3 linked regions of the Homo sapiens genome follow. The protein of the gene in region 3 binds, or shares a complex with, the protein of the main gene of each other region. Each region holds a gene or a part of one and is shown on either strand. Other genes may lie near its edges. A codon is read from its position in the direction of its gene.

Evidence for each region.
Region 1: the proteins of ATF2 (region 3) and MAPK8 are in contact, whole or in part, in a crystal structure (PDB 6ZR5), measured with the Homo sapiens proteins. Residues at the interface, in NP_001243019.1 of Homo sapiens: Phe36, Val44, Lys48, Met51, Thr52, Leu53, Lys54, Phe55, Gly56, Pro57; in NP_001310257.1 of Homo sapiens: Asp112, Ala113, Gln117, Val118, Met121, Glu126, Arg127, Tyr130, Leu131, Tyr133, Val159, Lys160, Ser161, Asp162, Cys163, Val323, Trp324, Asp326, Ser328, Glu329.
Region 2: the proteins of ATF2 (region 3) and MAPK10 are in contact, whole or in part, in a crystal structure (PDB 4H36), measured with the Homo sapiens proteins. Residues at the interface, in NP_001243019.1 of Homo sapiens: Lys48, His49, Met51, Thr52, Leu53, Lys54, Phe55; in NP_620448.1 of Homo sapiens: Asp150, Ala151, Gln155, Met159, Glu164, Arg165, Tyr168, Val197, Lys198, Ser199, Asp200, Cys201, Trp362 (codon at 2,521), Glu367 (codon at 2,506).

Annotation. Positions count from the first base shown.
Region 1 is NC_000010.11:48,309,512-48,320,208, reverse strand, and holds part of MAPK8 (mitogen-activated protein kinase 8), read right to left. Parts: intron 1-10,697. UniProt on the Homo sapiens protein: Serine/threonine-protein kinase involved in various processes such as cell proliferation, differentiation, migration, transformation and programmed cell death.
Region 2 is NC_000004.12:86,061,772-86,072,468, forward strand, and holds part of MAPK10 (mitogen-activated protein kinase 10), read right to left. Parts: intron 6,185-10,697; coding exon 6,002-6,184; intron 2,620-6,001; coding exon 2,495-2,619; intron 1-2,494. UniProt on the Homo sapiens protein: Serine/threonine-protein kinase involved in various processes such as neuronal proliferation, differentiation, migration and programmed cell death.
Region 3 is NC_000002.12:175,163,666-175,174,245, reverse strand, and holds the start of ATF2 (cyclic AMP-dependent transcription factor ATF-2), read left to right. Parts: upstream 1-6,042; 5' UTR 6,043-6,196; intron 6,197-6,536; exon of another isoform or gene 6,537-6,613; intron 6,614-10,580. UniProt on the Homo sapiens protein: Transcriptional activator which regulates the transcription of various genes, including those involved in anti-apoptosis, cell growth, and DNA damage response.

The sequences.
Region 1 (10,697 bases), on a different chromosome or scaffold from region 3:
CGAGCAGTGGCTCACACCTGAAATCCCAGCACTTGGGAGGCCAAGGTGGGGGATCACCTGAGGTCAGGAGTTCAACACCAGCCTGACCAACATGGAGAAACCCTATCTCTACCAAAAATACAAAATAAGCTGGCAGTGGTGGCATGCGCCTGTAATCCCAACTACTGGGGAGGCTGAGGTAGGAGAATCACTTGAACCAGGAAGGCAGAGGTTGCAGTGAGCCAAGATCACGCCATTGCACTCCAGCCTGGGCAACAAGGGTGAAACTCTGTCTCAAAAAAAAAGAAAAGAAAAAAAAACAGAAACGAAGTACTGATACATGATACATGAACCTTAAAAACATCATGCTAAGTGAAATAAGCCAGTCACAAAAGATCGCACAGTGTATGATTCCACTTACATGAGAGATCCAGAATGCGCTGGGTGCAGTGGCTCACACCTGTAATCCCAGCACTTTTGGAGGCTGAAGTGGGTAGATCACTTGGGGTAAGGAGTTCAAGATCAGCCTGGCCAACATGGTGAAACCCTGTTTCTACTAAAAATACAAAAAAATTAGCCAGGCCTAGTGGCAGGCACCTGTAATCGCAGCTACTCGGGAGGCTGAGGCAGGAGAATTGCTTGAACCCGGGAGGTGGAGGCTGTAGAGAGCCGGGATCACGCCACTGCACTCCAGCCTGGGCAACAGAGCAAGACGTCATCTCAAAAAAATAAAAAAGAGATAGCCAGAATGAACAAAACTATAGAGAAGAAAGTGGGTAAGTGGCTGTTTAGGGCCAGGGAGAGGAGGGGGTGTGTGTGAAGAAATGGGGAGTGACTGCTAGTGAGTATGAGGTTACTTTCTGGGGTGACAAACATGTTCTAAAGTTAGGCTGTGATGATGGCTCCATTATTCCAGGAATATACTAAAAAAGCTTTGAGCTGTATATTTCAAATAGATAACTATAATGGTATGTGAATTATATCTCAATAAAACCGTTAAAAAATTCTTAGTCCCTTATTACACATGACACACTATGGTATTTTCTATTTCATTTCTTTTAACAACGTAACAGAAATTGTGATCTCCCAAAATTCTATAACCTACTAATGGGTCATGAGTAACAGTCTGAAAGCACTGCCACAGAGTCCTACAACACTAAAAGTGATAACCACCATCTCCTGTATCAGGACTAATCCTCTCATACCTCACATCCCTGCTTATGGTCACCAGAAAAAATCCAGCTCTCCCTGGTTATCTATTATTCTCTGAATTCTCACTGCCACACTGCTGTGTACGTCCTCCATTTGACTCAATTCTTCATCCTCCTAATTCCTTTACTTGGCCTTCTGAAATTCCCAATTTGTGACAAGCAAACTTAGCCTGTTACACTACCTTTAACCTTTCTTGTTCGTCTAGCCTCCCTCCAATTCTTCCTTATTCATTGAGGACATTACAACTGGTTTACAGTACGTACCCTTACTCCCCTCACTAGTTGCTGATTTCACCATGCATGCAGACTGACCCTTTTTTAATACCTCAGACTCTTTAACTCATTGGCCTCCTCACGTTCAGGATTTGTCTCTGAATTCCACCTCGGAAGCCCACACCCAAAGTTAACCTGAGCATTATTAATGTCAATAATTGTCATACTTGTGAAATCTCTCTTTCAGGTATTCCACTCTGACCATGGCATTCAATCTTTCAAGTTAACTTACTCAAACCCTGTGGCCAGTTACACACTCAACCACCACCACACAATAAGCATTCTAGTTAAAAGGTCCTTATTTCCCTTGTCCCCCTTTCCTTCTTTTGAACTGATCTGGTGTGATGGTTAGTTTTAAGTGTCAATTTGGCTAGTCTGTAGTACCCAGTTATTCAAACACTAATGTAGTTGCTGTGAAGGTATTTTGTAGATGTGATTAATATCTACAAACAGTCAAGTTTAAGTACAGGAGCTTATCCTTGATACCGTGGGTAGGCCTCATCCAATCACTTGGTAAGGCTTTAATAGCAAAAACAAGTTTCCCTGAGAAAAACAAAATTCTGCCTCAAGGCTGCAGTATTAACTCCTGACCAAGAATTTCCTGCCTGCCCTACAGATTTCAGACTTGCCAGCCCTCACAAAAACAAATGCCTTAAAATCTCAGTCTACCTACCTATAACTCCGATTTGCTGTTTCTCTGGAGAACTCTAATACACCTGGCAAAATCTCACCCTGGGTAAATTCAACTACCTGCCTTAATCTGTGCCTGTAACTAATCAGCTAAATAATGCTGGGGGGGTGGGGGGTCACAAAACCAGGCTGACTGATATCACTTTAAATTCAAGATTTTAAACCTTAAATGAACAATCAATACTTCTTGGCAAACTGCTTCAAACTCCCCAAACTCCCATCCCTTTCTGCCCGTATGAATCTCATGCTTCATTGAGCAAACAGAAACCACAGAGAAGATGAAAGCCAGGAGAATAGGCCTTCACCTTCCAACTTCCAAACTTCCTCGCAAGGGCACACAACTTTTCTGCATTTCCTCCTGTTAGATGGAAAAGATCTCTCCTCTACTGAGGGCCAAACTCTCTACCCGTACTCTGCATCCCCTTTCCTACATACAGCAATGCCATTTTCACTCATTTTCTGAGCCTCACAATTTCCTTTATCCACCAACCCATTTCTTTGTTCACTTCAGAGCTAATCTTAAAAGAGTGGTCTGCACCCACTGTGTCAGCACTTGCTCATTTCTCACTCTTTTTCAAAGTGTTTCATTCAGGGGCTGGGTGTGGTGGCTCACGCCTATAATCCCAGCACTTTGGGAGGCGGAGGTGGTAAGATCACGAGGCCAGGAGTTTCAGACCAGCCTAGGCAACACAGTGAGACCCCATCTTTACAAAAAACTTAAAAATTCGCCAGCCGAGTCCCAGCTACTCGGGAGGCTGGAGGCTGAGACAGGAAGATTCACTTGAACCCAGGAGTTTAAGGCTGCAGTGATCTACGATCACACCACTGCACTCCAGCCTGGGCAACAGAGGGAGACCCTGTCTTTAAAAAGAAAAATCATTCATTGTTTTTTAACCATCTTCAACTTGGCTTCTTTCTTCCCACTTTAATAAAACCACCCAACAAGATCACCAACAACTTCCCATATAATCTCTCTATGCCTGTTTCCTCATGTATAAAATGGGAGTAACAGTGCCCACCTTGTAGGGTTGCTGTGGGATGTTTAAACAATTTAACATACATAAAGCACAAGAACAGTGCCTGGTATATGATAGGCACCAAATATGCATTAGCTCCTATACCATTAGGATAGTCTGGATACTTGTTTTCCCGAGGTTCTAACTTTTTGTTTCTAGCTTACTTAACGATGTATGCGTCCTTCAGTAGAAAACTGCCTTAGCTTTTTGGTGGGAGCAGGGGAAGGGAAGAAGAGACAGAAAATAAACTATTTAATCCCCATTAAGCAATGAGATCTCTACTGAAGTTCAGCTAAGTACCTAACTACCATATAATTTTATAAGGATGAGCAACCTGCCCCAATCCAGTTGCCAAATCAAACTCACTCTTTGCACCCTCTCACTCCTGTGCTTTCCTGACTTGATTTTTGCATTTTTCCAAGCTTAAGACCCTCCTGTCTACATTCATTCACTTCATACTTCTCATATCTTGACCTCTACTTTGACTGCATGCTCTCTGACACCAGACTAAATTATATTTCCGGGAGCTGCCTCTGGGTGCTAAGCACATAGAAAGCAGCCTATACACATAGTCACACCTTGCTTAAGGACGGGGATACCTTCTGAGAAATGCATCATTAGGCAATTTCGTCACTGTGCAAACATCATGGAATCTACTTACACCAACCTAGATAGTACAACATACCTAAGCTATAATATGGTGTAGCCTACTGACCCTAGGCTACGAACCTGTACAGCAGGTTACTGTACTGAATACTGCAGGCAACTGTAACACAATGGGAAGTATTTGTGTATCTAAACATAGAAAAAATAGAGTAAAAATATGGTATAATTTTATGGGACCACTGTCACATATGTGGTCTGTAATGGACCGAAACCTCACCATGTGGTGCATGACTGTATCATCAAATAAGACACAAGGCAGTTAACTGCTAATCCTACATTCACTATCAAGTGATCCCCAACTTGTCCATTTAACATTTTGAAAACCACAATTCATTTCAAGTTACATTAACTTTAGAGAGAAAACTTCACACTACTTTAAGTATTCCCATAATCCCTCCCTAATTTCATTATTATTCATAACATTTAAATACTCAACAGATAAACAGATATTTTGGCTCATTTTACATATAATGGAGGAAAACTATAATCTTCTAAAATCACCACTATAAATGCAATAAGAAAAAATATAAGAGTATAAAAAGTTGGGGGAGGGAGGAGGTAAAAATCAAAGGAAACAAAAAAGCTGGCATGACATAAGAAAAATAAAAAATTCAACTACAAAACTATTAGAAATAATAAATATTCTACAGGGGGCTTATTATTTAATATATGAAATATTAACTAATATACAAAATAAAAAGCTTTCTTATATATAACCAGATAGAAGATAAAAGTGGAAAAAAAGATGCCATTTCCAGCAAAAAAAAAAAAACTTAAATATATAAAACAGCAAAAAAAAATTTTAATGTTTAAAAATGCTATCAGGAACTCAAAATGAGACTTCAACAAATGAAAAGGTTGTTTTTCCTATTCTTGGATATAAAGGTACATCATAAAGCTGTCACTTATTCTATAAATACAAAGAAATCCTAACAGTACACTGAATCCATTTAATAGAAGCCAATCACTGGGGAGCAAGGTAACTTGAAAAGGATGTAAGAAAAGGTTCTGGGTGATGGAAGTGTTCTGTATTTTGATCTGGGATTGCACAAGTGTATACAAAGGCAAACTTATTGGACTGTAATGCTTGTGCATCTAGCTGTGCATAATTTTACCACAATAAAATAAAAAAAGTGATTCCAACAGAAAGACTGGCAGAGGAGGGGTACAGACTAGACTAGATGGGTTGTTTTTAGAAGTTCATATAAAATAAACAAGATAGAAGCCAGAAAAAAACTTCTGAAAAGGAAGAGAAATAAAAGGGAATTAGACCTAGCAGAAAACACAGCATAAACTACAATAATAAAAACAGGATGGCTCAGGTCCCAAACAGGCAGATGGGTCAATGGAAACAATGGTACCAAATACACGTGGAAATTTTGTAAATGGTAAAGGTGGCATTTTAAATCAGTTAAGACAAAGATGGATTATTTAATAAATGGTGTAGGGACAAATGGATGGATATCTGGTGAAGAAAATAAAGTTGGAACCATACATAATAGCCTACCATAGAATGGAAAACAGCAAATTGGGGAAAAACATTTCCAAAAAATAGCATGGAGCCAATTTGTAAAATTAATCCTACAAATCTAGGAAAATGAGCAACAAAGCAATAGAAAAACATGCAAAGACAAGGACAGTTCAAAAGAAAGAAAACACAAACAGCCCTTAAAAGATGAAAGACGTCTAAGGGTAATAAGAAGCAGGCATCCTTACACAGTGCTGGTGGAATGGAAGTTGGACAACCTCTACAGGCTACACTTCAGCAATACATAAAATTACAAATGCACATACGCTGGCCTAGGAACTCTACCTCTGGAAATTTATCCTATGCATTTAAGTGCAACACGACGTATGCACAAGGTAATCCACTGCACCATGGCTTTTGATAGCAAAAGTCTGAAAACTACCTAAATATGCATCAGAAAGGAGTTAAATGGTATACCAGTATAATGATGTTATGGACTGTCTGTGTCCCTCCAAATTCATATGTTGAAGGCCTACCCTCTAACTTGATAGTATCTGGAGGAGAGACCTTTAGGAGTTAACTAAGCCTCTCATGACTATATTAGGTCATGAGGGTGGAGCCCCCATGATAGGATGAGGAACAGACTAGAGCTCTTAGGGGCCATGTGAGGATACATCCAGAAGCCGGCCACCTATAAAGCCAGGAAAAGGACCCTCACCAGGGAACCAAATTGACTAAGTAGCCTAATCTTGAACTTCCCGACCTCCAGAACTGTGAGAAATAAATTTCTGTTGTTTAAACCACTCAAGTTATGGTATTTTGATATAGCAGCCCAAACAGAGTAAGACAAATGGAATACCACAAAGATGTTAAAAAAGCATGCCATTTACATACTGATATGACTGATATAAAATAATCTCTCAGCTATATTAAAACAAAAAGCAGGCCACGTGCGGTGGCTCACACCCGTAATCCCAGCACTTTGGAGGCCAAGGCAGGTGGATCACCTGTAATCCCAGCTACTCAGGAGGCTGAGGCAGGAGAATCACCTGAACCTCGGAGGCAGAGGTGGCAGTGAGCTGAGATTGTGCCACTGCACTCCAGCCTGGGCAACAAGAGTGAGACTCCGTCTCAAAAAACAAACCAACAAGCAAAAAACAAAAAAGCAAAAGGTGATACATATTGCATGCAACAACTTACATTAAATAAAAAGGGAGGGAGCAGAGCAGAGGCTATACAGTACTGTATATATGTATGACACCTATCCTTCATTGGCAAAGCCAAAATCCATAAAGCTGTGAAAAATACGTTTTTAAAATAAGTTTAGTACAAACGTATTTGGTGGTAAAACCTGACGAGACGTAGCATAAGATTTTATAATCTTTATTCACCCTACTTGTATTTGTTATGCTTTTATAAAAATATTAATGTCTTTGATTATTTCTGGGTGTTGTTGTTGTTGTTGTTTTTTGAGACAGAGTCTACACCTCTGCCGCCCAGGCTGGAGTGTAGTGGCACGATCTCAGCTCACTGCAACCTCCGCCTCCTAGATTCAAGAGATTCTCCTGCCTCAACCTCCCAAGTAGCTGGGATTACAGGCGTACGCTACCACGCCCAGCTAATTTTTGTATTTTTAGTATAGACGGGGTATCACTATGTTGGCCAAGCTGGTCTCAAACTCCTGACCTCAGGTGATCCGCCCGCCTCGGCCTCCCAAAGTGCTCAGATTACAGGCGTGAGCCACCGCGCCTGGCCTATGTCTGTATTTTTTACAGAAATGTTAATGTGTTTAATCATGAGGCTACAACCTCTTACTAGGGATTTTGGATAACACGGTAGATGTGCTACATTATCTTTCCACAACTGCAAAAAAAGCCTTCATTCTAAAATACATCTGGACCAAGGATTTTGAACAAAGGATTATATACTTAAACATATATAAACTATCTTTGGAAGTATTCACAGGAATTTTAACAGTTTCCAGGCAGAAGAACTAGGTGGCTACACAGAGTAGAAAAGGAGATTCTTTATCTTTTTAAATCTTTGGAATTTTGAGTCAAAGTGAATTCATTACTACTTAGTCAAAATATAAAATGTAAACAAATTAAAACATTAAGACTTTTAAATTCTCAATAGTAACAGCCAAAGCTAGATGCTTTGGTTTTTGTTTAACTGAAAAGTGACGCTTTCTCAAGTCACAGAAAAATCCACACAGCAGTAGCTTTTCTTTATCTTACCTTTGGTTGACCCAATGGCATCTGAAAATCAGAAAGCCATCCTTCCTGGAACAAGTCAGAAAATGGTGATTTTTCTACCCAATTAATGACTTTTAGGAAATAACATCTTATGGTTTTGATGTTTCCTGCCAAGCAAAGCAAGTGCTTGTGTGTGGCTATTTTTCGTTTCTAGTTTCCCCAGAAATATGGTGGGTGGCAGGCTTGAGTCTCTCAGCACCAAGAGGCAGTACTGGAGGACTATACTTCTCAATACTGGAGAGAGACTTTAAAAAGTGTTTCTAGTACAGATCCAGCCTTACATCATAAGAGCTTCAATACAGAGGAGATTGAGAACTCTGGTTAGTACCTGAGTAGCATCTTTTCTACTGTCAGCTTTTCATATTTCTCATATACTTATTTTGATACCCTGTTGTATTCCAAAATGAATTCATAAGGTTTGCCTTTTCTTATGATTTGGATTTTGACTAATGTGCACCACACTCTCAACTTAAACCAGGAATCAGAAAAGAAGATATCTTGCTTTCTCAGGTTTATCGAGTGAGTACAAAGGCATGGCAAGAGATGTAAGGTTTGGAAGGCCCCAAATGCCCCAATGACAAAAGAAATTCCTAATGAAATGACTAACAATATTTGCTTCCTTGTGTTAGGACATAAATGTGCTTACGTTAATCCTTATCTTCTATCAAATTATACTCAGCTCACTGAGGGTAGAAACTGACTTCTATTTCCTTTGGTTCCTACATCACCGAATACCTGGATTAGTATAGTGCAATGCTCAGTAAATACTGCCGAAGTAAAAACCAGTGTCATCTCATAGTAGATGCTCTTGAGAAGGAACAAGAAATTTAATCCACCATTATAATCATAGAAACGCTAAACAGAAGACTTAGAAAACCACAGAAAATACAGAAAAGATAATATTTCTAAGTGGTACTAATAAATAATCTCCCTCATTTTTTAAGAGGCCTCCAGGCCTCAATGAATTGTTGTGGTTACCAGGTCTCTGACAAATCTGCAATCTTCACAGAATCGAAGATCCCAATAACACTAAATTTAAAAGATGTGACAGCATTCCATTTTCTTCAAATGTGTCACATGATAAAGCTATTCGTAGCTCCTAAATTCTCATTCCTTTAGATGTCTATAACAAACCTAGGAAAGCTTAGGCAATTTTCTCCTGTGGGAAAAGGCAAAAAATCGTGAAAGTGGCAAATATGTTCCCTTCAATATTTGCTTCTGGAACATTTCCAAATTTTAAGATAGAGAGGATTACTGGTCCAAATGTTAATATAAATCATCTCAGTCAATTCAGATTACATGAGATGATCGAATTTTAAATAAACCCCCCAGAGATGCAGAGTGAAACAAATGGCATATTCTGGAGAATTAGAATGGACACTGTGCATTAAACTGGTTTGACGTTTACTTGGCATTTTATGTTTGTTCAAAGTTAAATATAAGTGATAACAATAGCAAAAACTACCTGAATACTTGTATCTAGCATTCCAGCCACCACAACAGTGCCAGGCACTTTACATGCAGTACCTAATTTAAACCTCACAGCCCTATGAGGTTACGTGCTATTATTATTCTCATTTGACAGATAATAAAACAGGCCCAAATATGTTATATAACCTGAACTAGCCTATACCACAGTTAGATTGGAGCACGATTAGAACTCAGGGCTGACCTTAAAACCCACGCTAGCAATCATTGTAAGGTTTGAGTTCCTTGACTTTCTAAAGAATGGCAGATTTTAACTAAATCTGAAATATAATAAAGGGTAACAGGAAACACAGGTATCTCTTGTATTTGTGATATAACCCACCTCCAAGAAAAAGAATGGAAGCTACTAAGTTTTCCAAAAAGGGGTCTCCTCTCTGTCTCTCTCCATGCACATACGTATACACACATACACACACACACACACACACACACAATTTTAAAAACTGGATTTCAGTGAAATTTGGCCTGCACAGAGATGTGAAGTGGGCTTTTGTTTGGCGGGAACCCTTTCATATACCTTTTAAAAGAGCATAAATTAACTGTTTAGCGATGCCTTCAGTCTAATCCTTGATTATAAGCTTCCTGAGGATAATGAACTCATTTTATGTCTTCCACAAAGTCTCTGGGAGCATACGGTCTCATTAGAAGGCATGATGCTGTGGAATAAATAAAAGCCTACCTTTCCAAGAATCTCTAGCTTATGGTGAAGCCTTCCATTTGTTTTCTAAGTCTGGATATTAAAGAAAAAATTCAACTCAACAATTTTTTTGGCTTCTGAAAATTACAAAATTACAAAATCCTAACTTTGACTACTGTTCTTAACTTAGGCTTCTGATTATCACCCAAGAAGGGCTCTTTTTGTCCTAGTATGTTTTCTCAAGAACCACCTATCTGAGGAACAAGCCTTCTATAAAAAAAAGTTCTGACAGCCTCAGTTTATACTTTTAAAGCCAAAAACATTAAGGCACTTGCCTAAAGCTCCAGAATTTGATGACAAAGTCCAGATGGCAGAACTGAGAAATGAACCTAGGTCTGATTCCTGGATTGCTCTAGCTCCACCTATTGACCTGAATGACAGGATAACTCATTTCAATACTCCTGTTACCTTTCAGTCAACTCACTTCTGAAATCAAAGTTCAACTTAACCTGCATTAAGAGTAAGAATGCAAGGCTTCTAAATGTTCAGGTAAAGAGCTCATGATTAAGACAATCAGCATCACAGTTCACTGACATAGGCAAATGATTCATATATAAAGCTATGTGGTTATAATGACTTCCTTGGACCACATGAATCAGAAAAGCTACTACCCATACCATTGACTTGACCAGAGACCTCTAGAGCACTGGAATCCTAATGTCAGACATTATTTTGTATTTCCACTCGTGCAACAAAGCATCTCAACCATGTAGATGACTGAAATATGTCAAAATTCAACCCGCTGGCAAAGCAGACCAACAAGAAGCAGGCTCCTATTCAACAACCTCTTAGCACTAGGATAGTTGGGGACTAGTCATTTAACAACAAATTCCTTCAAGTTGTTTCACTGAACATCTCATCCTCACAAGGTCACTTTGATAATATCAGGCATGGAGCAAATAGTTAAGATTATAACCACATTAATTTGTATACAATTTATTCTTGCACTGACTT
Region 2 (10,697 bases), on a different chromosome or scaffold from region 3:
TTCCCTCCCTAACAGCATGTGAGTTACTTGAAAGCTCTTTGATCAGAATAAAAATCCCAATTATTTGATACTTCCATTTATTTGGATTATAAAGACATACGGGGGTATATTTTGCAAAACAGTCTTGTCAGCCCCGGCAGAAGATATATCACTATATTATAGCTTTGCCATGTGTCCATAGAGAAAGGTTATCTTATGTTAAACACATGTTCATATGCAATAACAGAGACATGAATTCTAAGGATATTGCAGAAAGCATAGCTGACTACTGATTCTAGCACCTTCAGGATCTTTCTCTTCTTAGTTGTGACCACTGTAATGCACTTCATAGAGTAATAAATTGTTCTTGCCCTGGGATCATGATTCCCATCTCTTCACTACAACATGTCTAGATGTAAGACATGTTTACCCTTGTATAATCAATGATCTGAGTCTAGATGTCAAGTACTTGCTTGTTCTGTGCATTAACTGTCTTCTTTTTCTGGAACTGCAGGCTCTATCAGATCCTTCCCCTAAAATTCATACATCCTGCCTTGTTACTATCCGTGCCCCAGCATGACCAATATCAAAGTGGTTAAGAAAAAGGCTCCAGCTATTTTAGTATCCTAAATTTTATCTTTTCATTCTACAAAGAAGTTTTTCATAAAAAGTTAAAATAAATTTAAAAACTCATTGATACTATTCAGTAAGATGTTATAGATTCCAAGCAACTATCTCTTTTATAGGCAACATAATTAAAAGTGAATTACAAATGCAGACTTTATGACTCTAATTAAACTCTAGGCCACAATGCATTAAAAACAGATTATACATATTAAGTTAGATATAAGAAAAAATAAATATGCCACATAGTGAGGCATAAGTTAATATGCCTCAAAATAAATGAGGAGAAACAATTTCAGATAATACATATTTATATAAAATGTTTATCAACATAACCTAAAATATTTTCTTGAATTTCATCAGAGATAAAATTTTTATACTTAATTTTTGTAAACATATACATCATACTTTCTCTCACTTACTTCACTACTTCATTCCATCCCAAGAACATCTGTGCAAGTATTTCCCAAGTGTGGGAGACTGGAAGAGGTTCTATATTTTGGTTGTAAGAATATATATTAATTTTTAGAACATTATAATTAAACTCAGAAATATTTAATTGTAGGGATATTATTTGGTAAGAATCAAATAAAATGACTAAAAATTAACTTGAGGCAACATGAAATCTCAACATCATTGTAAAACTAAGAGAGCAGATCTTAAACAAAATGTAGTGCAGTCTTCACACTTGGGAGATTCATTAATCACTTAAGTGTTTTCTCTGAAGTTTTTAAATGCTTAAAGATTGGGTTACATTATGAAAAGGACCTGTTTAATATTGTGTCTGTAAAGTTCAATTCTACCTAGTTCTCACTTTCTTTCGTATCTTCTCTAGTGAAGAATGAAGAAATGAGAATTATGTGTTTGAATCTAGCACCTCTGACATGGAAAAACACATGGTGAAGCAGAGGAAAGAAAACTGAAAGAAAGTGAAAATATCTTTAAGAATACTTTGGGGAAACAAACAGTATTTCAAATGAAAGATTAAGAACAAATCCAAACAAATGGATTGGAAGGTATTATGTAAAAAAATATGAGATGCTTTAGCACAGGTACTCTAAGAATTTGAGAAGCTTCTCATGTTTAAGGGAGAAGGTAACATTCCTGATAGAAACATTTAAAGGCAGTGCAGAAAGGAAATTCTCATCAGGAGGCCTATAGAACACACATGGGCAACAGCAAGCCCCCCTTGCCCTGCTCAGCCCTGGATCCATACAGAGGAAAGGAGAGAGGTAAAGATGAAAGAAAGAGGTTGAACAGAAGATAGTAAATGGTTGAAAAATATTTTTAAAATAGAAAGAGTTATGCTTCTGAGAAGATTCTCCATGTCTGGGTATCAGACATGGAGATACATCATACTGATCAACCTGAAGTAATGTACTTACTGAAATACCCACTTCTAGTTCATCTAGTTCATGCAAGGTTTCACAAAGCCACCAATCGTTTTAATCATCTTATAAAAGCTTTCTAATTGAAATATTCTTAAGTATCACATTTTACTAGTGGCAGGTATCTTTTCAAAAAAAAAATACAAGCTAAGCAACTTGTCCTCTGTTGTTTCCTACCACTAAGTTTGCATTAGAAGAGACTGGCAGTCAAACACACAAGAAGAAACACAAGTATTGGCAATTTAACAGAAACAAATGGTAGTGTATCATGGACATCTAAGGTTTGTAGGACTAAATCATACCCTCTTCTAGTAAGTCCTGAAAAAAATGTATTTAAAACATATGTTGAAGAAAATAGCTTTTAGAGGGGCAGATAATAGGCTTTGGACTTAGAAATTTTATAAAAATCCATTGTGCATTCTTTAGGCTTCTAGTCCTATTCAGTTTTTGCTATGAGCTATGATTTGTTTGTGGAAGCAAAGTAAAGGCAGCCTATTTCTTACCGCCTCCACTTCGGCTGGGTCATACCAGACGTTGATGTAGGGATGCTGTAAGGCGTCGTCCACTGATATTCTTTTTGCTGGGTCAATCACTAGCATCTTTGACAACAAGTCCCTGGCTTGGCTGGCTGAAACAATAAATGAGAAAAACAATTAGTAAGATTTTGATTTCAGTAAGGAAATTTGTCAGAGAGGAAATTTAAGAAAACAAAGTATGGAATAGTATCTTCCTTCCAAACATCAGGTAAATCCCTTGATGTGATGGAAAAGAAAATGCATTTTACACCTGTTTCTTTGTGTCTCTAAGCCTAAGGCTTCATTCTGAGGCTCTCCAAGGGTTGTAACACTTTGGGTATATAATTATTCACGCAAACTTCTTAGTAAAATGTATCAACCTGGAGAGTTTATGTAAGCAAAGTCATCTTCTTTGGTAACCTGCATGAATATAGGATAAACAGAATAAAGAGCACAGAGTGCAAATGCATGATGTTCAACAAATGTGTGGACGGCTGTTTGAAGTTAATCAACACGTGTGTCTCTATATTCTTATTTATACAACGGAATTATCAGAATTTTAGTATATAAATTGACTTAAGAGTTTGTATCATACAAATTTTTCTTTTCTTTTTGTTTTTGTTTATTTATTTATTTATTTATTTTTGAGACAGGGTATCCCTCTGTTGCCAGGCTGGAGTGTAGTGGAATGATCACAGCTCACTGCAGCCTGGAACTCCTGCGCTCAAAGGATCCTCCCATCCCAGCTTCCCGAGTAACTGGAACTACAGGCATGCACCACCATGCCTGGCTATTTTTTCTTTCTTTCTTTTTTTTTGTAAAGATAAGATCTCCCTACATTGCCCAAGCTGGTCTCGAACTCTGGGCTCAAAGATCCTCCCACCTCAGCCTCCCAAAATGCTGGGATTAAAGGAGTGAGCCACTGCTCCCAGCCACAAATTTCTTATATACATAAAAACAATCAAAGAATTGAAGTGATAGAAATAATATCATTCAACTACTGAATTTTATTTTAACATTCTGTAATCATCAGGTATTTTTAATCAATGGAATCATGACTTGATGAAATCCAGTAGTTAAAGACTGAAGCCAGTCTAATGCTACACCAGACACTAATGAGAAACTCTATATTATGTAAAGGTTATCATAATTAATTTTATGGTTGTGGGCAGTAACAGTTATAAAATTATATGGTGATAGCTATTTATTTAGTAAGATTGTTAAAAGACACATTAATTTTAACCTCTAAAAATATGTAAATTTTTTAAATTATTATACTTTAAGTTCTGGGATACATGTGCACAACATGCAGGTTTGTTACATAGGTATACACATGCCATAGTGGTTTGCTGCACCCACCAACCTGTCATCTACATTAGGTATTTCTCCTAAAGCTATCCCTCCCCTAGTCTTTTACATAAAGTTTTAACAGAAATGAATATCTCAAATCAATATTGTTACTCAACTGATCTGAAAGTTGAACCGTGAAAATATTCAGTTTATTCTAACTATATGGTAAAACATCAAATTAAAGATAACAAAATTTAAATGGATTTTTCAAAAAATCAACATAGATGACTCTGGATACATATCAATTTTTATTTAATCAATTTTTCAGATTAAAACAACTTGGCTAATTCTACAAATTTGAAAATTATATAAAATACAAAAATCAGGAAATAATATCTAACCCCACTAGCTAGAGGCAATGACTGTGATTATTGGCATATTTTTTCTAGTGCCGTTCATGTATTTTTCACGTAATATTAACCATACTATAGTTAAAATGTAGCAATTAATTTTTTACCTGTAAGTATTTTCTTGGTAATTACATCAATAAATATATCTTTTAATTTTCTGAACAAATATGAAAAATCACTAGTTAAACTTGAGAATTTTTTATTTCTATTAATCATTTTTCTGGGAAACTCAATCCTAGAAACTGATTATCATTACTTTCAAATTAAAACTCTGTACCGCACAGGAATAACAAAAATACAGAAATACTTATACATTAATTCAATATTTAATTTTTCTCATTGCCAATGGCCTCCTAATAGCCTAACAGGGCTGTGTTTATTTATTCATTGCTTTAAAGACCTCTTTAATTTGTAACTGATTTTACATCCAAATTCATGTACCATTCTCATAAGATTCTCTCATCAAATCTATCCATTTTTCTGCTCTTAGAAAGGGCTGGGGTTAGCCGGGCGTGGTCGTGGCTGACACCTGCAATCCCAGCACTTTGGAAGGCCGAGGCAGGCAGACCACGAAGTCAGGAGGTCGAGACGATCCTGGCTACCACGGTGAAACCCCATCTCTACTAAAAATACAAAAATTAGCTGGGCGTGGTGGCGGGCGCCTGTAGTCCCAGCTACTCGGGAGGTTGAGGCAGGAGAATGGAGTGAACCTGGGAGACGGAGCTTGCAGTGAGCCTAGATCGGTATCCCGGGCGACAGAGCGAGACTCTGTCTCAAAAAAAAAAAAAAAAAAAAAAAGAAAGGGCTGGGGTTACAATGGATTCTTCATGAATAGGGTCATGAACTACACCAATACAAAATCATCTTGCTAAGAAACAATACTATTTTTAGGAAACAATATGGGAAAATGTTTCAATGCTTTATCTTTCATTCTTTCATTTGAAAGCAAATGTGTTATGCTCTTTTCCAAACACAGTAGAATACATTCTTCTCTTTGGTTATTTGTATATTAAGATTATTTATAATTTGCCAATTTTATATTAAAAATTAAATTCAATAATCAAATATGCAAACTAGTTTATCATTTACAAACATAATTGCAGAGATTCAAATTGATTTAAAAAGTAAACTCAAGAAAATTGGAATTACATTATGAAGTATAATATATATCTATTTTTTGAGACGGAGTCTTGCTCACTCTATCTCTAGGCTGGAATGCAGTTGCCCGATCTCGGCTCACTGCAACCTCTTCCTCCTAGGTTCAAGCGACTCTCCTGCCTCAGCCTCCTGAGTAGCTGGGACTAGAGGTGTGTGCCACCATGCCCAGCTAATTTTTTTATATTTTTAGGAGAGACGCAGTTTCACCATGTTGGCCAGGATGGTCTGTCTCGATTTCCTGACCTCTTGATCCTCCCGCCTCCGCCTTCCAAAGTGCTGAGGTTACAGACTTGAGCCACCGCCCCCGGCCCTGAATATCCAGACAATTCTAAAATCCGTGGCTACTCCCCTTTGTAGGAACGATCTTTGAAGAAATATTTCTTTAACTTGAGGCTGTGCCAATTAAAGAATTGATCAATGTTTTAGGTGATGGGTTATGCTAATTGCTCTGATTTGACCATTATACCTCTATACATGTTTCAAAAATACCACCCTATATCCCACAAAAATGTACGATTATCATGTGTCAACTAAAAATAAAAGGGAACAAAGAGAAAGAGATAGAGGTCTCTATACTGTGTGCTTGTTTGGCCCGTCACCCTCATAGTTGTCCTCAAGTCATTCCTGAAGGGCATACCTTTGAGTTTATTGTGCTCGGAGTCCGCTGGGAAGAGGGAATCTGGGAAGAGTTTGGGGAAGGTGAGTCCCGCATACTTGGGCCGATTCTCCACATAGTTTCTTACTGTGGGTTGCAATTTCTTCATGAATTCTGGACATGGTGTTCCTAGTTGTTCAATTACCTTATTCCACTGGTCAATATCTGAGAATTGAACAGTTAAGGGAAAAAAGAAGAGCAGACCACTAGCCTTTCAACAATTGGGAGACTAACTCTTCTCAAAGTCCTCAACAGTCATTAATGCAACTGTAGTTTTAATAAGCAACAAAGAATGAAAATATAAAATCAGACTTGCAGGCTATGAGTCTTCTTGAAATTTTAAATTCACTTTTGAAACTTATATACTTTTGGAAAACTAGCAATTATTTAACAAAATAAGATATCATGAAATAGTCTTTGGGGTGTACAGATAAAAAGTCATTCAGATAACACAAGATGAATCTCATATTCTGCAGATAAACTTCTATATAAATCATGTGATTCAGAAGAAAAATATATAATGACACATCATAGTGACATTTTTATCCTGAAGTTACCTCAATTATTTATATTTTTAAAATGACAAATACACAAATATTTTAGATTATATTCATTTACATTTTCCTAAACTATCTTTAAGATATTTTTTCTTCTCTAAAAATCTGGAATTTTTTTCTATTTTTATGCATATCAACATAACTTTTATAGTAAAACAACTCATTAGTTCTTTGTCAGATTCCTAAAAATCATATTTATTAAACAAAGAAGCCACCTATTTCATACCTATTGTTTTACTGATGATATCACTGAATATTGTTTTCAATGAAATATAAGGGTGAACAGAGGAATATTCAATTTAAAACAACAGATTTCTATCCAAGTACATCCAAGTTTAGAAAGTACATTAAGCATGGGGAATACCACAGAAAAAATATTACCTCTCTATGAAAATTAATACCCTTTTAAATTGGAGCTAGCTCTTTTTGCAGACATACTCAATGATTGAGATTCTCTTTTTTATCTGTCATTAATATTCGATATATCAGAGCCTTGATAATGATAAACACCATCTACTCTGAAGAACCAACTGGAAACAACTGATTTAAACAGATTTCCTCGCCATGTGCCAGTGAATAATAGAGATCTTGGAAATTCCCTTAAATCCAATACTGCAAGCAGTATTCTCTCCTACATTGCTTATTCTTCTACAACTGTTCTTTGGTGTTAAGTTAGTTAACTCATTTCCACTAAGGTAAGGTGTGACAGTTAAGGGACTCTTACCATAATATTACTTAGTTGAAGTTTGTCAAGTCTTTACTCCTAGCTATTCAAGAGGTTTGGACTGAAAAAGATTGTCAGTCCTGATTAAAGATAAACTTAACTGTATTCAACAAAAAGAAATATATAATACAAACAGTAGATAGGAGATTGAACAAAGATAAAATCAAACTAATTTGCAAATCCTTTTCTTCATCTCTATAATCTGGCTGAATAAAACTTAAATTATTACATATTCTGTCAGTTATTGGAATAAAAAATATATAACCATGGACTATGAAGATATGAAATGAAGGTGGGAAAAACAATAATATTCCTTAATAAAGCAGTAGTAATAATTAAACAAGAACATGCTTTGATAGAAGCTCATCTAATTATCATGTGCATGAGAAAATACAGCAGTAATTCAGAATCACTAGAAATAATGAAACTAAAACATTATATAAGGTTAGAGTTACAAATTACTCTTAGACATGAGCCTGTATTAATACTATGGATATAGGTAAGCTATAAGTACTTAGACATACTTAAATAGAATACATTAGTGTAGTTAAATAAAACCTAAGTGCTTGTCATTATAAATTATGAAGAGACATTTTTTAAACAGTTAGGTTAGCATGCCCTACCAAGCTATCATTTCATCATTGATCAAACTTCCTCAAAATTCTAACCACTCGATGTCAAACTTAAAATAGAGGCAAAGAAGATGTCAGATTTTCTGTAAATAAGTCATTTAACAAAGTTGGCAAAATAATCCCAACACAGTATTATATCCTAATTACATTTGCTATAATTATAAAGATATACAGTAAATAATTGATTTTAAAGAAGTACTCCCAAAACAAAAAAAACTGATACTTTTATATTAAAGTTTAAGGAGAGTCAGATATTCTGGAATTTGTTAAATAAGAATTGTTAAAATGTTTCTTGTAATAAATCATAATTAGAATCTAGAGACACACTCAGCGCTCTTTCCTACCTTAGGTTGCTTTTAAATGAAACACTGTTGTGATTCTTGATGCAATGGTTTACAAAAAGAAGGGTGGCAAAAATCTTTATCATTGTCAATGAAATAGTTAAATGTTCATACTGCAAATCTGAGTTACAGTGATCTTTAAAAGTCTGTGTCTTTATTTTAACCAATCCATTTCAAGATTTTTCTTCCCAAAAACATATGTGTGTGTATATCTACATATGGTAAGTACTTGTTTTCTAGATGTTCATAGAATACAAACATGAACAACTATGTCCAATTTAGTTGAGCACATGATTTTTCTTTCTTTTTTTTTTTGTAGCACTTGAAGGGCTTTATTTTTTTTTCTTTTTCTTTTTTTTATTATACTTTAAGTTTTAGGGTACATGTGCACATTGTGCAGGTTAGTTACATATGTATACATGTGCCATGCTGGTGCGCTGCACCCACTAACTCGTCATCTAGCATTAGGTATATCTCCCAATGCTATCCTTCCCCCCTCCCCCCACCCCACCACAGTCCCCAGAGTGTCATATTCCCCTTCCTGTGTCCATGTGATCTCATTGTTCAATTCCCACCTATGAGTGAGAATATGCGGTGTTTGGTTTTTTGTTCTTGCAATAGTTTACTGAGAATGATGATTTCCAGTTTCATCCATGTCCCTACAAAGGACATGAACTCATCATTTTTTATGGCTGCATAGTATTCCATGGTGTATATGTGCCACATTTTCTTAATCCAGTCTATCATTGTTGGACATTTGGGTTGGTTCCAAGTCTTTGCTATTGTGAATAATGCCATAATAAAAATACGTGTGCATGTGTCTTTATAGCAGCATGATTTATAGTCATTTGGGTATATACCCAGTAATGGGATGGCTGGGTCAAATGGTATTTCTAGTTCTAGATCCCTGAGGAATCGCCACACTGACTTCCACAATGGTTGAACCAGTTTACAGTCCCACCAACAGTGTAAAAGTGTTGCTATTTCTCCACATCCTCTCCAGCACCTGTTGTTTCCTGACTTTTTAATGATTGCCATTCTAACTGGTGTGAGATGGTATCTCATAGTGGTTTTGATTTGCATTTCTCTGATGGCCAGTGATGATGAGCATTTTTTCATGTGTTTTTTGGCTGCATAAATGTCTTCTTTTGAGAAGTCTCTGTTGATGACCTTCGCCCACTTTTTAATGGGGTTGTTTGTTTTTTTCTTGTAAATTTGTTTGAGTTCATTGTAGATTCTGGATATTAGCCCTTTGTCAGATGAGTAGGTTGCGAACATTTTCTCCCATTTTGTAGGTTGCCTGTTCACTCTGATGGTAGTTTCTTTTGCTGTGCAGAAGCTCTTTAGTTTAATTAGATCCCATTTGTCAATTTTGTCTTTTGTTGCCGTTGCTTTTGGTGTTTTGGACATGAAGTCCTTGCCCATGCCTATGTCCTGAATGGTAATGCCTAGGTTTTCTTCTAGGGTTTTTATGGTTTTAGGTCTAACGTTTAAGTCTTTAATCCATCTTGAATTGATTTTTGTATAAGGTGTAAGGAAGGGATCCAGTTTCAGCTTCCTACATATGGCTAGCCAGTTTTCCCAGCACCATTTATTAAATAGGGAATCCTTTCCCCATTGTTGTTTTTCTCAGGTTTGTCAAAGATCAGATAGTTGTAGGTATGCGGCGTTATTTCTGAGGGCTCTGTTCTGTTCCATTGATCTATATCTCTGTTTAGGTACCAGTACCATGCTGTTTTGGTTACTGTAGCCTTGTAGTATAGTTTGAAGTCAGGTAGTGTGATTCCTCCAGCTTTGTTCTTTTGGCTTAGGATTGACTTGGCAATGCGGGCTCTTTTTTGGTTCCATATGAACTTTAAAGTAGTTTTTTCCAATTCTGTGAAGAAAGGCATTGGTAGCTTGATGGGGATGGCATTGAATCTGTAAATTACCTTGGGCAGTATGGCCATTTTCACGATATTGATTCTTCCTACCCATGAGCATGGAATGTTCTTCCATTTGTTTGTATCCTCTTTTATTTCCTTGAGCAGTGGTTTGTAGTTCTCCTTGAAGAGGTCCTTCACATCCCTTGTAAGTTGGATTCCTAGGTCTTTTATTCTCTTTGAAGCAATTGTGAATGGGAGTTCACTCTTGATTTGGCTCTCTGTTTGTCTGTTGTTGGTGTATAAGAATGCTTGTGATTTTTGTACATTGATTTTGTATCCTGAGACTTTGCTGAAGTTGCTTATCAGCTTAAGGATATTTTGGGCTGAGACGATGGGGTTTTCTAGATATACAATCATGTCGTCTCCAAACAGGGACAATTTGACTTCCTCTGTTCCTAATTGAATACCGTTTATTTCCTTCTCCTGTCTAATTGCCCTGGCCAGAACTTCCAACACTATGTTGAATAGGAGTGGTGAGAGAGGGCATCCCTGTCTTGTG
Region 3 (10,580 bases):
ACTTGTAAACTTAATGATATTGATATAGTACTAGAAATGTATTTTCTCTTAGGATTTTCTTAACATTTTCTTTTCTCCACCTTTATTGTAAGAATACAGTATGTAATGTATATAGAGTACAAAATTTGTTTATCAACTATGTAATCAGTAAGGCTTCTGGTCAACAGTAGGCTGTTAGTAGTTAAGTTTGGAGGAAGTCAAAAGCTATATGCAAATTTTTTTATTGCATGGGAGGCTGGTGGGGGGAATCAATGCCCTGAACCCCTAACCTTATTCAAGGATCCACTATATTTTAAAAAGAGTGCAAAGGTAGTATCAGTAGGATTTAATGCCTAGATCTCAGGAACCAGTTAGGAGAAGAGAGGGTGTGTGCATCTAGTAAGTGCTAGCTATACTGTTATTTAACCCTCATAACAACTCTGTAAACTTGGGAATAATTTCCAAGATGCAAAGGAAAATAGGCTCAGAGGTTAAACAGTTCCCAAAATTACATAGCTATTAAGTGGCAAAGTCAGGATCCAAATTCAGATCTTCCTTAAAGCCCATGCTCTGATTTTTTTTTTTTAATATGACTGTTAGCAATGACAAGGAAAAACCTGATTTGGGGAAATGATGAACTTTGTTTTTTATATAATTTTAAATACAAGAGGTATAATTTTACAGATCTGGGCTTGAAAAGAGAAGAAAGGTATGTACAGCACAGACTAGATGTGCATAAGAGAAGTGCAGAGCAGCAGTAGGGACCCAGCTCCACACAGGTAACAAATTGGTAGTGAACATCATTCACCTAGTTTTGTGACTCTCCAGCAATGTTGGGAAGCTTGCTAATACAAACTGATGTAAAGAGCAGTGAGGGTTATCAGGGTTGTGCACTGGGAAGAAGAGATGATGGAAGGTCAAAGTGGCTCTAGGCAGACAGCAAACAAGCGCACTGTTCAACAAAATGACCTATGCATTTCAAACTGGGTAAGGAACAAGGGAAGACACAATAAAGGTGATAAATTGAAATAACAGAGGGGTCAAGAGCTCAGAGGTTTCACTAATGTTGAAAAGCCATTTCAATAAGAACCAAAAAATACACAAGAAATTTAAAGAATTTCAGAGTTCAAGATCTTGGAAATAAGGTAGGCTCGAGGAATGATCAAAATTTGAGGTCAAGTTGCTGAGTGATTGAAGTTGGGTAGAAATAAATGTAAATGCTGTTAATTTTAAGGCAGGATTGTAGATAAATGGGAAATAACATTTGAGAACCAAATAAACTACTTGTGCTTCTGCTGTAAATTTTAAGTTCTGTTAGACAAATTTAGTGAATATGGTTTGGTTTGGGTGTTGGGTACTTGGAAGAGGAAAAAATTGTATTGTTATGGTCCTACGTGCAAAGCCTTTTAAAATATTTTGTGATTTCTACATAGGAAATTATAAATGAGTTGTTGATTCCTCTACATGCTGAGCATATCAACGTAGTTATTTCATATTATAATTCTACTGACAGTGTTATGGACTTAACACCCAAATACATGGTCCATCAGTTACTTGCCCAATTCTTTACATTATTAAGGGCAAAAAAATATTATTTCCCTAAAAACTGGTTCAGGTTCCTGGCAAGAATTTGCACTTCTTTCTCCTGAATTGACAAAAGTAATGTGTCTCCTCTGAGACATTTAGTGACTTCGATCTTCTTTCTCAAGGGAGCTTAAATATTGGAGAGAGGAAGTAAAGAGAGTACCTAAGACCAATAGAGACTCATAAATCCAAGAGCTTTTGGTTGTTCCTCCCATTAGCATGAGCTAGCATCCTACAACTTATTATGGCAGAGACTCCTGAGGACCCATGATTGTTGTCAGTGGCGCTTCAACAACAGCTTTTAGTCAGCACTTCCCAGCCATGGAGACTCCAGGATCTCCTCTTATAATTGCATCCCAGGCTTTGCTTCCTCAAATAGCTACACAGGTTGGCTGAGTCTCTCAGCTGCCAGACATCGCAGTATTTTTCCCTCAAGAGTTGTATCTTAAGGACAACTCACAGAATTCTCCGACCACTCTAGTGCTATCTAAAGTGTCTGTTACTTTCAAGTTCTCTAAAGTTGTATTTAAAAAGCAAGTTCTAATATTGTATGTTATTACACCCCGGCTTTATTTTCTCCATAGTACTTACCACAATTTAAATTATCTTGTTTATATATGTAGCATGTCTCCCCCTGCCCCTGCACCCAACCACAAGAGTCTCCTGAAAAAACTTTGTCTTATTTATAGTTGTCACCTCAGAGCCAGAAACAGTGCCTGGAATGTTCATGCTCAATTAATATAGATGCTTTATGAGTAAGGAGAGCATTAGGTTGATGCTTGACCTCATTGGCCATAGTTGACCTATGAGGCTGTATCCAAGGTAAGAAGGTAACTGAAACGAGCAGGATGGTAGTCTAAGGACCCAGGAGGATCCATATGCTGACAGACCTCCCTTGATTTCTAGGATACAGATCACATGGCTTTGGTGTTACGTGGGCCTCAGGTTGACAAATAGACTAGTTATGGGAAGCTATGAAAGGTAGGAGTGATCCTATTTTTATTAATAATATTGTATAAAAAGAATATAATGATGGCAATCCCTCTTTCTGGTGAGTCAGATGAGAGAGAGAGGTGGCATTAGCATCAAGAATGAAAACAAGGCCCTTAAATTCCATTCTCCCTCTCTCTGGGCTGGTTTTGTTGAAGGTAGTATAAGCTAACTGGTATGATGTGAAGATAAACATAGCCCTTTTTCCCCATAATGCCACACCCCATTAATTATAAATTCTTTTGGGAAACCCAAGATTTGGGTTGGAGGGTAGACATCCCTGCACTTAAAATGTCCATGATGAGGACAAGTGCTGAGAGGTAACTTTAACATAGGCCATTTCAGCAATGTGCAGGAAGACCCTGAGCTGGCAGAGAGAGGAAAAGATCTGCCATGAGATAGAAGCTACCAAAATGTCTGTACAACGTCTAGGGCCACATTATCCTATTTCATTTCTCAGATATCAGTGGGGTAATCATGTCCTGCGTCTCCCACCCCTTTCACATCTCACACACACACACACACACCACACACACCCCTACCTTGATCCCACTGATAAAATCCCAGCTAATCCACTGTACTGGGCTGCATCCTGAGAATATCATGAAAATGTAGAGGCTCTTTCCCTAAGCCTAGGATTAGTTGTACCAAGTAGACATAAGGGGTGCCCTGTAGTCTTCTATGTTTTGGTTAGCTGCAGACAAACAGAAACTATGTTCTGAAAATCAATTATTAGTGAGAGAGAGAAGGAGAGGAAGTTGAAAGGGAAGATGGAGAGAGATATGGTTTGGCTGTGTCCCCACCCCAAATCTCATCTTGAAGTGTAGTTCCCATAATCCCCACATGTCATGGGAGGGACCAGGTGGAGATAATTGAATCATTGGGGTGGTTTCCCCATCCTGTTCTCATGATAGTGAGTTAGTTCTCAGAGATCTGATGGTTTTATAATGGGCTTCTCCTTTTGCTGGGCACTCATTCATGTGAAGAAGGACATGTTTGCTTCCCCTTCCGCCATGATTGTGAGTTTCCTGAAGCCTCCCCAGCCATGCTGAACTGTGAATCAATTAAACCTCTTTCCTTTATAAATTACCCAGTCTCGGGTATATCTTTATTAGCAGCGTGAGAACAGATATATATATACACACACACACACACACACACACATATATACACATATATATACATACATACATACACACACACACACACACACGTTTTAGAATTTTTGTGAGCAGTTTTAACAGATTATGGATTAGCAGCCCTATCATACTAAGGTGGAAATACCACATTGTGTGGCATTTGTAAGATTTTGAGGGCACTTAGAGACCATCATTGTTTCTTGTGATATTTATTAACATTTTCATGACAGAAATGCATTTTCTTCAAATAGCCTCATTTTGTATCTAAGGAATATTAGTTTTATTTAGCAGTTATGCTGGGTTCTTAAAGGAGATTCACTAGACCCTCACTAATTCTCTTAGAACTAAGTTGGGTAGATGCATCATGGAACAAGACAGGCAAAGAAGAGGTCTACAAGAAGTTTCCTGCGTTTGTAAAGAGAAGACTGTAAAGAATTTTAGGACTCTTGGGGATATTGAGGAATGCAAAAGTGAGAACAAAGATGGAAAAGGGTGGCATTTTATGAGGATATGAATAAGTAGTGAGACAAGTTCATGGAATCAGACCTGAATATGGTAACTACATTCATTTTGACAATGCTGAATGTTTTCCCCACTTGTAGAAAAACTATAGTAAACAAACTGCTGTGGAACTAGAAATATGTGGATAAAGTGAGACCCTTTGTTAAATGCCGGGCTGCCAAAATGCATATATAACAGATCGGCATAGTTTCCACCTGTTTCCTGCGCCTATCTTATTTTTTTTTCTCACTTTAGGTATACCCTCTCTTTAGAAAATTAGCTAAAACTGAATTATCAAAACAGATCAGAGTACTGTTCATATCACTAAACAGTTCTTCTCTTGTCTAAAAAGAACTGAAAGACTTTCTTTAAAATAATGTGTTTCTCGAATGCATCATGTAGATAACTAACTGCTTGACAACAGACTGGAGAAGTAGCAATGAGAAATTTAAAACCAAAGCTACTGCCCAATTGAATCAACACTGGAAAAAATTTCAAATGGAAAAACAATTTTTTTAAAAAAATCTATTCTAATTGACCCAAACTTCTTTTGAAATGTCGTAACATTTGCAGTTCTTTTTCTCACATTAGTTGTTTTGGGAGATGGAGAGAGAAGCATCTATTTAATCAATGCGTTCTAGACCTAACAATTGTGATGTCAATCAAACATTTTGTCCACCATTTCCATCATGAGTAATCTGAACTGTGAGGTTTTGCTGACATAATTAGTGTTACACTACAATGGCACTACTACATTACTGTTACTATATGGGGACGGTACTTTCATTTTAAGTAGGAAAGTGTTAATAATTTGGCTTAATGTTTCTTAACTAAAATTAGTTTTAAAAGAGGACTGAGTTGGCTTATACACATGTATGCGGTCCAGAGACCTACCTGTTAAAATGTCAATGCCATTACAATTTCACTTTTATGCCAGATATCATTCTTGAACTTCAGGCTCATTAACTCTCATACTATCCCCCAAAACCTTTCAACAATTTTGAGAGTGTATTTTATGTTAATATATAAACTAGTTCATAATTTTGTTCCAGACTAGAAATCAGTATTTAATAAATGGAAAAAATAAGACACTGAAAATCTTTTATTGAATAATGTAAATTCTCACAGAGGCCTCTGATCATACTTTTCAACTTGTGCCTATTTATTGAATAACCAACATCCTTACAGTTAATATTAAAATCTTTAAGTTGTGTGGGGTTTTTTGGAGGGGAGGGATGGGCAATTACCAGCAAACTCCGCCTCCCCCAAACCTCACCTAACCCGAAGCTCCCCGCCTCAGGCTCCCGGGGAGCCAAGGGGTGGGCTGAGGAACGCAGCCTACTTTTACCCACCTCCCTACCTAGTGCTGGGAAGTGACGGAAACGGAGACACCCGGCTCCTGGGGCTGGGCTCGGAGGACCCATCCTGCTTTCCCTCTAGCAGCCTTTCCGGAGCTCACCACCTTTCCTCCCCTCACACCGCCAAAGCCCTGCCTAGCCCTTCACCGCCGCCTGCACCCGCGCCCTCCTCCAGCCGACAGCCAATCACAGTCTTCCACAGCTCCGGGTTTACAGAAGTAACGCTCCTTGGGCCCTCTGGTCCCGCCCCCTCCAGAACTGCTTCCCGCCCTTCGGGCTCCTTGTCCAATCATGAGCGCCCGAGTGCTCTTTGATGCCCGTCCCCTCTACCCGCCCTGCCGAAGACCCGCCTTCTTCTCCTTAAGCCTGACGGAATCACCTGACTCGGAGGCGCTCCCTCAGAAGGAAGGCAAGAAGGGGCGTGTGGGTGAAGGGGAGGGGCGCCAGAAGGAAGGTGGGGATGCCGGGAGCGGGGCGAGCGGGCGGGGGTTGTCAGTCCGATCTCGCGAGAGAGGACGGAAGCCTGTGGGAGCCCGTGGCCTTTAAAGTGCCGTTCAGCCTTTTCCTCCAGGGGTGCTTTGTAAACACGGCTGTGCTCAGGGCTCGCGGGTGACCGAAAGGATCATGAACTAGTGACCTGGAAAGGTGAGTAACGATGGGCAGAGGTCAGCAGGGCTGGAGACTGTAGGGATACGGAGAAAGAAGGCGCTAACATGGCGACGTCGCTCAGCACAGTCCCCACCCCCCGTTTCCCATCACCTCGGGTGCTCCTGACGTGCTCCTTAGCCCTTGGGGCGATTGTGGCTGTGCTGCCACCTCGGCGGCCCGCGCGGTGTGGGCTTTGGGAACCTGACTGGCTGGGCCGGACCGTTAGGTAACCAGCGTTCGTTGTTCCGGCCCCTCCCTCTCGCGCGCTTTCCTAAGGCAGAGGAAAAAGGAATAACGGCTCCCTCTTAGACCCCTCCCTCCGAATTATCTTCACCCTACTTGGGTCAGTTCAGAGGTCCTCGGGGCGCGCGTCGAGTCAGCCGTGTGCGCAGGGAGACCTCTCCCACCCACAGTCCTTGGGTTGGGCGGGGAGAGGGCCCACTCTGGTCTCCCCACCCAGTATTCAAGCGATTGAGGACCGTGTATTGGTGATGGTGGCGGGGAGGAGGATCGGGAGGCGCGGCTGAAAATAGAATCAGGGTCCCTGGCTGCGGTGCAGCTTGAAGGAAAGAATGGTGTGGAGAACCTAGGAGCTGGAAGTCTCGGCCTTTTCCGTCCTTTCCGCCACCCTCACAATCCCGCTACCCCCAGCTTTTTCCCGGTGGGGCGGGGCTTAGGTGTGGGTGCAGACTGATTCTGGTATTTTCCCTTATTTTTTTTTTTTTAAATCTCTGGGTGGACAGCAGAGCGTATGTAAAGAAATAATTTGCTTTTCATCAATGCCCTAGGGACCAGGGCCGAAAGGGAGTGTGTGTACGTGTTTTCTATGTTCGCTCGTTTAACCGAACCTAGGAGGAAAAAGAGAGGAGGAGCTGGGAACTATTTTTGTGCCCCTAGGTAGTATAAAATTGGCTTTCTTTAATGGAGAGTCTTAAAACTGGTGAGGCCAAGAGCAAAACTACTGTGAATATCATGGAGTAAAAGAGATTACTCCTGATGGACCTTAGGCATCAGAAATTTTAGTGAAAGAAATGTTTCTCTTAAAATTCAACACCTATTTTAAATAGTGATGTAAAGCATTTCTTTACATGTACCTTCAGGTTTTCTAATGCTTTCCTGGCTATTATTTAACTGGTACTAAGGGATTGACTAATCCCTAAATTATAATGTGAAAGTTTAAATTTCTTAGAGGTTTTAAATTATGGAGACGGTCACAATGCATGCATTTAAGATATACATTTAAAATCAGAACAAAAACTGACTTTCTTTGAGCACACTTTTTGTCCTATTTGAAGAAACATGACCACTGGCGTTATCATTGTGAGTAACAGCCGTTCTGATCTTTAAATAGCCATATAGCTTTGGTCTCTTGAATCAAAATTATGAAGGTAAAGCTTTATTTATAAAAGCTTGTTAAAAAGTCAAACCTACAGGTTTAAGTGTCTTAAAGTACAAACACAGAAGCAGTTTTATCATGTATTAATTTTTTTTTCCTTACTTGAGGAATCCACCGTAAAAACTTTGTTTCAAAAATGTTAGGAACATCCTTGTAAAATACGTTTTAAATATACAGATTCCCCTCTGCAGATTAAGAAAGTTCATGGATCTTTAAGGCCATCAGTAGTTGCGTAATAGTTAAGAATCCTCGTCTTTGTAAAATAATTTCTAGGAATCTTCCAAATTTACCGTGATGTGTAAAAGAGTTTCTGAGAATCTTCCAAATTTACCATGATGTGTATGTTGCCTTCCTAAGACGTTTAATCTTGCTTTGAGAGAATGCTACTGCCATTAAGTTTTAAGAACTGATTTAAAATGTAATATCGTGGAAATTTAGAACTTAGTTGTTATGTATTTTAATTGTCAGGAAGGAGCTTTCAGGGACTTTTTTTTGTATGTGTAGTGTACATAATACCTTCTATAGCTCCGGGTGCATTTCCTGAAAATCCTTTTTAAAATATCTTATCCGAATGTTTATTTCGTATTTGGGGCACTGTATTTTTATTAGTTAAATATGTAACCCAGGAATTCCTGCACTTTTTTCTTTGGCGTTTTTTGTTTTTAAGCTAAGATAATAGTAGAGGCTGGGCGTGCGCGGTGGCTCATGCCTGTAATGCCAGCACTTCGTGAGGCCGAGTGGGGCGGATCATGAGGTGAGGAGATCGAGACCATCCTAGCTAACACGGTGAAACCCCGTCTCTACTAAAAATACCAAAAATTAGCTGGGTGTGTTGGCTCCTGTAGTCCCACCTACTCGAGAGGCTGAGGCGGAGAATCTGTTGAACCTGGGAGGCGGAGGTTGCAGTGAGCCGAGATGGCGCCACTGCACTCCAACCTGGGCGACACAGCGAGACTCCGTCTCAAATAAATAAATAGTAGAAATGGTTGTCAGCATTTTAACAAATAGTGGGGTTGGGGTGGTCTTTATTGGTATTCAGGATCTGAAAGCTCTATGACTATGGTAGAAAAATATGCCATACATCAAACATCTATCTGTAAGTAGCATTAACTCTTCAAAAAATAATGTACATTTTTTCTACCCAAATTTTTGTATTTTGGAAAACTTCGGTTTTAATGATACATACGTTCTTGTCTGGTAAATTGTTAGATCGTGTTAGATCAGGTAAACAATCTCACCAATGTGTGCTTTTTCTACTAATTTTGTCTAAAGGCTCTTCCTTCCAATATGAAATATACCTATAAGTAGGCATTTCTTTCTCTTTTTTATTCTTACTAAAATGTCATTGGAGAATATAAAGTAGTTGAAGTCTCCCTTATGAAAACCAGATTTTCATCAGAACCTCTCGTTAAAAATTCAGTGAATAGCAATAATTAATATTCAACTGATTTTTATAAAAGTCAATGCATATAGCACCTGTTGGGTTATTTTGTATAATTAAAATGTACCCTAAAAAAAATCCCACCTTAGCCAGGTGTGGTAGCTCACGCCTGTAATCCCAGCACTTTGGGAGGCTGAGGCAGGCGGATCAGCTGAGGTCAGGAGTTCAAGACCAGCCTGGCCAACATGGTGAAACCACGTTGGTAGGCGCCTGCAATCCCAGCTACTGGGGAGGCTGAGGCAGGAGAATCGCTAGCACCTAGGAGCAGGAGGCTGCAGTGAGAGCCGATCGTGCCACTGCACTCTAGCCTGGGCAACAGAATGAGACTGCATCTCAAAACAAAACAAAAACCAAAAAATTCACTTAGTATTGTTATAATCTGGAGTTTAATTTAGTATTTCTGTGTTTATCTCATACTCACACCTGTTCCTCAAGGCTAAGAACTTGTCTAAAATGCTGCATGTTCTCTTTATGTAAGTTTTAATGTTGAAGTAGTAGGATAGTATTCACCTATTTCTATTTGAAGGAAAACCCCAGAGAACATTTTATTTCCTTTGTTATGTTTCTCAAGGTTAAAAGGTTATATAGTAAGGTATAAGATAGTTTCATAGAAAATCAAGGAAATTTGTGGATCTTTAAGGCCATCAGTAATTGTATTTTATCTTATTTTATTTTTGAGACAGAGTCTCCCTCTGGCTTCCACGCTGGAGTGCAGTGGTGCAGTCTTGGCTCACTGCAATCTCCACCTCCCGGATTCAAGCGGTTCTCCTGTCTGAGCCTCCCGAATAACTAGGATTACAGGGGTGCACCACCATTCCCTGCTGATTTTTGTATTTTTAGTAGAGATGGGGTTTCACCATGTTGGCCAGGCTGATCTCGACTTCCTGGCCTCGAGTGATCCACTCGCCTTGGCCTCTCAAAGTGTTGGGATTACAGGCGTGAGCCACTACACTAGGCCTATTTTTACACATTATTTTATAATATAAATATATTTAATGTTACATATTATATAAATATAAATAAATATGTATTCATTATATGTGTCTTTTCAATTTGTTGAGACTTTTTGACAACCTTGAAACTGGTGTATTCATTTTCACTTTTAAGGCATTACAGGCATGAGCCACTGCACCCGGGCCTATTTTTACACATTGTGTTACAGGTGTATTTAATGTTACATATTATATAATTATAAATAAATATGTATTCATTATATATATCTTTTCAATTTATTCTTGTTGGCAACCTTGAAACTAGTGTATTCATTTTCACTTTTCTTTTTTTTTTTTTTGAGACGGAGTTGCTATGTCACCCAGGCTGGAGTGCAGTGCCGCTCTCAGCTCATTGTAACCTCTGCCTCCCAGGTTCAAGTGATTCTCCTGCCTCAGCCTCCTGAGTAGCTGGGATTACAGGTGCCCGCCACCACACCTGGCTAATTTTTGTATTTTTAATAGAAACGGGGTTTCACCATGTTGGCCAGGCTGGTCTCGAACCTGCCTCGGCCTCCCAAAGTGTTGGAATTACAGGCATGAGCCACCACCCAG